Homo sapiens: one gene and its partner. The protein of the gene in region 1 purifies or fractionates together with the protein of each later gene. This does not show direct contact. Each region holds a gene or a part of one and is shown in the gene's direction. Other genes may lie near its edges.

The links. Proteins that work in one complex are often made in the same cells at the same time.
Region 2: the proteins of CRHBP (region 1) and PHLDB3 purify together in Homo sapiens (affinity purification with mass spectrometry; 4 studies listed by BioGRID and IntAct, with this or other methods). This does not show direct contact.

What each region holds. Positions count from the first base shown.
Region 1 is NC_000005.10:76,951,863-76,955,844, forward strand, and holds the start of CRHBP (corticotropin-releasing factor-binding protein), read left to right. Parts: upstream 1-1,182; 5' UTR 1,183-1,272; coding exon 1,273-1,353; intron 1,354-1,738; coding exon 1,739-1,832; exon of another isoform or gene 1,833-1,878; intron 1,879-2,166; coding exon 2,167-2,324; intron 2,325-3,790; coding exon 3,791-3,982. UniProt on the Homo sapiens protein: Binds CRF and inactivates it. May prevent inappropriate pituitary-adrenal stimulation in pregnancy.
Region 2 is NC_000019.10:43,494,747-43,498,246, reverse strand, and holds part of PHLDB3 (pleckstrin homology-like domain family B member 3), read left to right. Parts: intron 1-370; coding exon 371-499; intron 500-967; coding exon 968-1,129; intron 1,130-2,626; coding exon 2,627-2,752; intron 2,753-2,907; coding exon 2,908-2,991; intron 2,992-3,431; coding exon 3,432-3,500.

The sequences.
Region 1 (3,982 bases):
AGAGCTCAGAATTGTCCTGACATGAAAATAATCAAGTTCTGACACTGCCAGGATAATTACTGTTTAATTTCGAGTATTTTAAAACTGAAAATATAGCCATTCCTTCCTTTATAACTCTGTATTATGGTCTATTTGTAATAATTGTAATAACAATGCTTGGTGCAGAGACTGGAAAGGGGTAGGAAAGCCAATAGTGGAGCATCCTCATGTTTCCCACAGTTTTGGACACAAAGAAGAAATTCTCTTCTCTCCTGATAAGCAGAGATAAGCTTATACTTATTTCCGGATCCCTAAGTCATCTTTTTAGCCCTGCAAATTTGCTGGTGAGCAGTTACAATAAAGCTTCCTGGCAGTTCCTTCTACCAGAGTGTTAAAGTAATCCAGGTATTTGAAGGCACGAAATGGAATGACTTAATCTCATCTCTCAGTGGTTCAGATGGATGCGAAGGTCATGGCTACAGCTACCTGGTCTAGGAGTGTGTACATCATGTAAACATCCAGGTCAAGTGACAGAGCTCAGCTAAAATCCAGAAGTCCCCTGACACCAGAGTTAGTTTTCCATGAAAGAAATGCCTATAAGAAACTGGACCAGGATAAAGCAAAGAGTAAGGGGCAGGAAGAAAGCTTATAATTGCATTACTGCAATCTTCTGCAAAATCAGACTTCTGCTTCTGTTCCACCTCTTTAAAGCTGAAAATGCCTCAAGTTTCTTACTGAGAGACATGAGAAATTCCATGAATACTAAATTCTTTGACAATTTCTAGCATGGTTTCATCCAAGGTTATGTGATGAGGCTGCATAATATAGGCTCTATATGTTTGGGTATTTTATGCGTGTATGTAACTTTGTCACTTTGATTTGCAAAATGGAAAATTCCCTGAATGCCCACAGAAAAGTATAATGTAGCATTTAGCAGGTCAACAAAATGCACTCCCTTATTCTTTGTCTCCGCCTCATTCTCCAACACTTTAGTGCACTAAGTTGTAGTGACTGAAATCATTCTTGGTGAATAATGCTGGGCCACGCTGAAAATTTGTGGCTGAGAGCTGGACCCTCGTCATCGCCACGTACTCTGTCAATGAGACAGGGTAACCCATGGTTACTGAGCTCCGATCAGTTAAGGGGCAGAGAGCCTCCGCTCCCCACTGCTCTATAAAAGAGACCCAGCAAAGGGACCCTACCAGCTTCTAGCTCTCAGTCTGCGCGAGGGTGTAGGAAGGAAAGCCCAGGACCTCCGGAGCAGAGCACAGCAGCTGCAGAGGCAAGGCCAGCATGTCGCCCAACTTCAAACTTCAGTGTCACTTCATTCTCATCTTCCTGACGGCTCTAAGAGGGGAAAGCCGGTACCTAGAGGTGAGCCACCCCTGGACTGACCCATCTCACCTTCCTTGCGTGTTAGCCCTAGGCGGCAGGCAGGCTGCCTCTGCTCGCAGCCTTTTGGGGTTCGCTGTTTCTTCCCTCTCTGCTGGATGCTGTCTTGCCCCTGGTTTCCCCTATCCTGTTCTCCCTCCTTGCCTCTGAGCATCCCAGACTGCCTGCCTGCCTTCCTCTGGCCGCTGGGGATACCCTGGCCTGATGGAGAGGGTCTAAGACCTTCCCGTCTTCTCCGGACACGGGAAAACATTACCCCTCTCTCTTTATTCGCTATGCTGAGTGGCAGGGAGGGTGCCCCGCTCCTGGTCCCCTTTTTTATCCCCAGCCCTTGAACTTTTCCGGACTGACCTATGTTTCTTGCCAGCTGAGGGAAGCGGCGGACTACGATCCTTTCCTGCTCTTCAGCGCCAACCTGAAGCGGGAGCTGGCTGGGGAGCAGCCGTACCGCCGCGCTCTGCGTGAGTCGAGGCTGCCCGGCTCGCGGGCGCCCGGGACGCGGGGAAGGTGGGACTCTGTGCGGGGGGCAGAGGGCTCGCGGACATCTCGGGGAAGGGGCTGGCCGGAACCGCCAGGGGCGCGGTCCCCTTAGCTAAGGATCGGTCCGCGGAGGCGCGCCAGGAGCGGGAGAGGGTGGCGCGCCCGGGGCGCAGGAACCCAGCGCAGCCTAGGCTGGAAGTCGGGGCGCTGGGCACTACAGAGCCCGGGAATGGGGCGCGCGGAGAGCGGCCGCCCGAGGACGGCGCTGCGGCGGCTGCAGCCCGGGACTTATTGCCCCATGCCCTCCTCCCCCAGGGTGCCTGGACATGCTGAGCCTCCAGGGCCAGTTCACCTTCACCGCCGACCGGCCGCAGCTGCACTGCGCAGCCTTCTTCATCAGCGAGCCCGAGGAGTTCATTACCATCCACTACGACCAGGTCTCCATCGACTGTCAGGGCGGCGACTTCCTGAAGGTGAGGCGCCCACGGCCAGCCAACCTAGCCGGAGGGCGGCACGGGAGGGTTGGAAAGGGCTGGGGCGCTGCACCCAGCGTGGGGCTGCTGAGCGTAGGTAGCCAGTGGCACTTCTTAGACACTTCGCTGGTGCCCGAGTCGGAGAGGCGCGTTCGAGGACCCCCACACGGCGAGAATCTCGCCCTTACCCGAAGACCTCGACCCACACACATCCAGTGGGGCTGGGGCCGGTGCCTCTGGACGCTGCCATGGTTTAAATTCCCTTCTGGGCGCTTTCGAGGCCCTAGGAACTTCTAAAGACTTGAACTCGCAGCGCGGAACTCTGACGCAATCCAGGGCCGAGGAAAAATGATTAAAACCCAACAAGCTCGAGTGCTGGGGTCCACCAAGCGGGCCGTCTTGGTTAGAAGGCCCGCCCCACACGTCTCACATCTGAGCCCGCCTCGCTCCTGCTGGTCCACGCTCGGCAGAGCCGTTCCGAGAGCACAGAGGCTGTCTTCAGTGCGCGGGTGACCCGATTTTGGAGCAGTAGGGGACTGGCTGCCGAGGGGGCATCTAGATTGAGATAGGTGGGAGGGCAGGACAAGACCCCTAAGCTCACTGCCTCCTCGATTCCAGTCGTCAGACTCCATAAGTATAACAGGGCAGCATGGGATGGCTGATGGAGCTCTACTGTCCAATTAAAATAATCATGATTAACATCTCCAAAGTAGGATTATTTTGGAACCTGTCACATGCGTTAGAAATAATTTGTAGCTGGGTTGTTGGTAATTTTGCTAATGTGGACTAGATTGGACTCGTTAAACTGGAGACCTGTGGTGATTTTGAGGGTCAAGTCAATAGACTCTGACCCTTTGTTCAACTGCAAACTTTAACAAGTGAAGGAAAAATGTTCCAGGTAGCATACCAGCCATCATTGCCTGGCTGTTGAAGCAGTTCTTGACATTTTAAAGTAATATGTGATGATATTTTTAAAAAATGAGAAAAATGGGTGTATATAGTCATTAGCAGGTAAAGTTGCTGCTCCAGTTTTTTCTTTTGCTATCTATTTTCAAGATATTTTGTTCACATTTCAATGACTAGAGGAAAGAGAGAAGCTGCACGAAACCTAAATTATGCTTTTGTGGAATTCTTCTGAAGGTGAGAGGTAGAAAATATGACCAAGGTAAAAATGTACATTGTACGTTGTTTTATTTACCAAAGTGGTTGAAATGATAAAGTATAAGGAAGTTTACTTACTTTGGAAGCTTTAAGGCTTATAAAAAATTAATTAATACTATTACTTGCAAACAACCCTCACCATCCAATATATACAAATGAAAAGGCGAGCAGGCAGAGTGTGGACTGTCGATTCTCACTTATGACTGAAGGCCCATTGCTGGATGACTTTCCCCCCCTTTTCAACTCATTTCAGACTTCAGGAGTTGATGGAAATGATAGCATCTATGTCTGTATTTTTTTCAAAGGTATTTGATGGTTGGATTCTCAAGGGGGAGAAGTTCCCCAGTTCCCAGGATCATCCTCTCCCCTCAGCTGAGCGGTACATAGATTTCTGTGAGAGTGGTCTTAGCAGGAGGAGCATCAGATCTTCCCAGAATGTGGCCATGATCTTCTTCCGAGTCCATGAACCAGGAAATGGATTCACATTAACCATAAAG
Region 2 (3,500 bases), on another chromosome or scaffold:
CCACCTCAGCCTCCCGAGTAGCTGGAACTACAGGCGTGCACTAACACACTCCACTAATTTTTTTGTTTTTTTGTAGAGATGGGCTCCCCCTATGTTGCCCAGGCTAGTCTCAAACACCTGGGCTCAAGAGATCTTCCCACTTTGGCCTCCCACAGTGCTAGGATTACAGGTGTGGGCCACCACACCTGGCCTCATTCATTTCTTTAAAATCTTGGTGCTGACTGTGAGGCAGGCCTGCACAGGAGTGAATCACATAGATGAAGTCCCTGCCTTTGTACAGCCGACACCCCAGGCAGGCTCTGAGATATGGCTGGCTGCTGCTTCTCCCGCTATGCTTAAGCTGAGGGTGAGAACCTTGTTGTTCTTTCAGGAACAGAGGCGGCTGAGCCAGGAACGGGATCGCCTAGAGGGTCTTCGCCAGAGACTCCGCAAGGCCCAGGGACAGCTCGACTCACAGCCAGAGGACCAACGCGAGCGGCTTCTGCAGGGTGTGCAGGAGGTAATGGCATCTGGTTCTTTCTTTTTTGTTTTTTTTGAGACAGAGTCTCGCCTCGTTGCCCAGGCTGGAGTGCAGTGGTGCGATCTCGGCTCACTGCAACCTCCGCCTCCCAGGTTCAAGCGATTCTCCCATCTCAGCCTCCCGTGTAGCTGGGACTACAGGTGCGCACCACCACACCCAGCTAATTTTTGGCATTTTAGTAGAGACGGGGTTTCACTATTTTGGCTAGGCTGGTTTCGAACTCCTGACAGGTGATCCACCTGCCTCGGCCTCCCAAAGTGCTGGGATTACAGGCGTGAGCCACTGTGCCCAGCTGGCCCTCTGATTCTTAGCCCCCTCCTCCCCAGGACCCAGGAATCCAAGTCCTCAGTCACCTTCTTCCTCTGACCAGGAGTCCCAGCCCCAGCCCACTACTCCCTGGGGTCTTAGGGATTCAGGCCTCCACCCTTTTTGTGTTCCGACCTATAGATGAGGGAACAACTGGATGTGGCCCAACGTGCCTATGAGGACCTGGAGTTCCAGCAACTGGAGCGGGAGAGCCGGCAGGAGGAGGAGGATCGGGACAGCCCTGGGCCCCAGGTGCCAGACCCCAAGGTCCAGGAACTCCAGGCCAGCATGGCGCAGCACAGAGTGAGTCATGCCTGACCAGCGCTGCCCCCCTTGCTGCTCCTCTCTGTCTCCCCTGCTCTGTGCCTGCCTTTTTCTCTGTCCTTGTTTCCTGCCTGTCATGTTCTTCTGAATAGTAACAACAAGAGCTGATACTAATGAAACATTTACTATGTGCCAGATATGGTCCTGAATATTTCATGAGCATTTCCTCACTGAATCCTTACAACAAACTTATGAGGCAAGTTCTATTACGTTTTTTTTTTTTCACGTTATAAATAAAGAAGCTGAAGGTCAAGGTGCTTAAGTAATCTTTTCCAAGTTTCCTTAGTAAGGGACAGAGCCAGGATTTTTTTATTTTTATTTTTTGAGATAGCGTCTCACTCTGTCACCCAGGCTGGAGTGCAGTGACACGTTCACAGCTCACTGCAGCCTCCACGTCCTGTGCTTAAGCGATCCTCCCACCTCAGCCTCTCGAGTAGCTGGGACCACAGGTGCGAGCCCCTACACCTGGATAATTTTTGTATTTTTAGTAGAGACAGGGTTTCACCTGGTCTTAAACTCTTGGATTCAAGCGATCCTCCCACCTTGGCCTTTCAAGATGCTGGGATTACAGACATGAGCCACCGTGCCTCGCCACAGCCAGGATTTGAACAAACTTGGTATTCACCACCACATTCTTTGCCTCTATTCCAAAAAGATGCTTCATCAGATCCTTCCTGGGAGCCTCACATTCAAGGGTCTGACTTGTGAGACCCTTGGGAAAAAATGGGCATGTTTGACCATATTTAACACAGAGTTTCCCAAAGTTTTGGATTAGAAAGCTCGGCCGGGCTCGGTGGCTCACTCCTGTAATCCCAGCACTTTGGGAGGCCGAGGCAGGCAGATGACCTGAGTTTGGGAGTTTGAGACCAGCCTGACCAACATGGAGAAAGCCCATCTCTACTAAAAATACAAAATTAGCTGAGGGTGGTGACGCATGCCTGTAATCCCAGCTACTCGGGAGGCTGAGGCAGAGAATTGCTTGAATCCGGGAGGCGGAGGTGGCGGTGAGCCGAGATTGAGCCATTGCACTCCAGCCTGGGCAACAACAGCAAAACTCCATCTCAAAAAAAAAAAAAAAAAGAGCTTTTCTTGGGTCTCCTTTCCCCACCTGCTTCTGGATCTTTTTCCTCTCCCGCTGGCTTTTCCTTCGTCTCGGGTTGTCTCTACTTGTCTCTGTTCTATTTCTATCTTTTCTTTTGCCTGAATCTTTGTCTACATCTCTGTCTTTTGGGGCCTGTCTTGGTTACTGTTCTCTCTGTCCATCCCTTTCTCTTCATCTTCCCCAGATCTCTTCTGGACCCTCAAAAGGGAAGAGGGTCCAGGGAGCTGAACGCTGGGTCCCCAGCCCTGGACACTCCGATCCCATGGTCTCTGGGAGTGGCTGGAGTAAACCCCAGCCCTCCAGGCAGATGTGGTTCTGTGGGAGGGTGGCCTGGAGAGCTGGCTGGGGCCGTGACAGATGAGTAACCGGGACAGAGGGGTGCTCTGCAGCACCGGATCCGGGTCCTGGAAGAGCAGCTCAAGTCACTGGGGGAGCAGATGGCAGCCGAGAGCCGGGGGTTGAGCCGGAAGAAGGAGGAGGCCCTTCAGGCCCTGTCACAGGTGAGCTACCTGTCACCTGCCCTACCCTACCGTCCTCACTTCCCCCTGGGGCATCCCACCACCTCCCTGCACCCCAGATGTCTCCTGACATTAGGGAAAGCAGCTGGGACAGCCCATTCTGACTTTGACACGTAGCTGTCCATATCTTCTGGTAGGAACGGAGCCGGCTGCTCGAGCTCAATTGCCTTCAGGGAACACCTGGCGGGGACTTCTCTGAGCCCAACCCGGCCCTCACTAAGGTATGGGGATTTTGTATGCCTCTCAGTCCCTCCTCCCTCAGACTTGAAAGTCCAGTCCCCAGCCCCTCCTCCCTCAGACGCAGGAGTCCAGGCCCTAGCCCCTCCTCCCTCAGACCCAGGAGTCCAGGCCCCAGCCCCTCCTCCCTCAGACTCAGGAGTCCAGGCCCCAGCCCCTCCTCTCTCAGACCCAGGAGTCCAGGCCCCAGCCCCACCTCCCTCAGACCCAGGAGTCCAGCCCCCAGCCCCTCCTCAGGGAGCCAGGAGTCTCTGCCCACAGCCCTACATTGGGAGACTGGACACGAAGGACCACATTCCATCTCTCCTTAGTTTTTCTTTCTGAGAAATGGGTGGCACTAGAGGCATGGGCCAGAGCACGTGGAAACTGGCAGTTGCTCTGGGGTCTCTCCTGCTCCCACGAAACTTCACCCCATCTCTTGCAGCTGCTGTTCACCCAGAAGACAGACCGCCAGCTGCTGGTGCTCCAGGATGCCGTGGCCCACTCCGCTGCC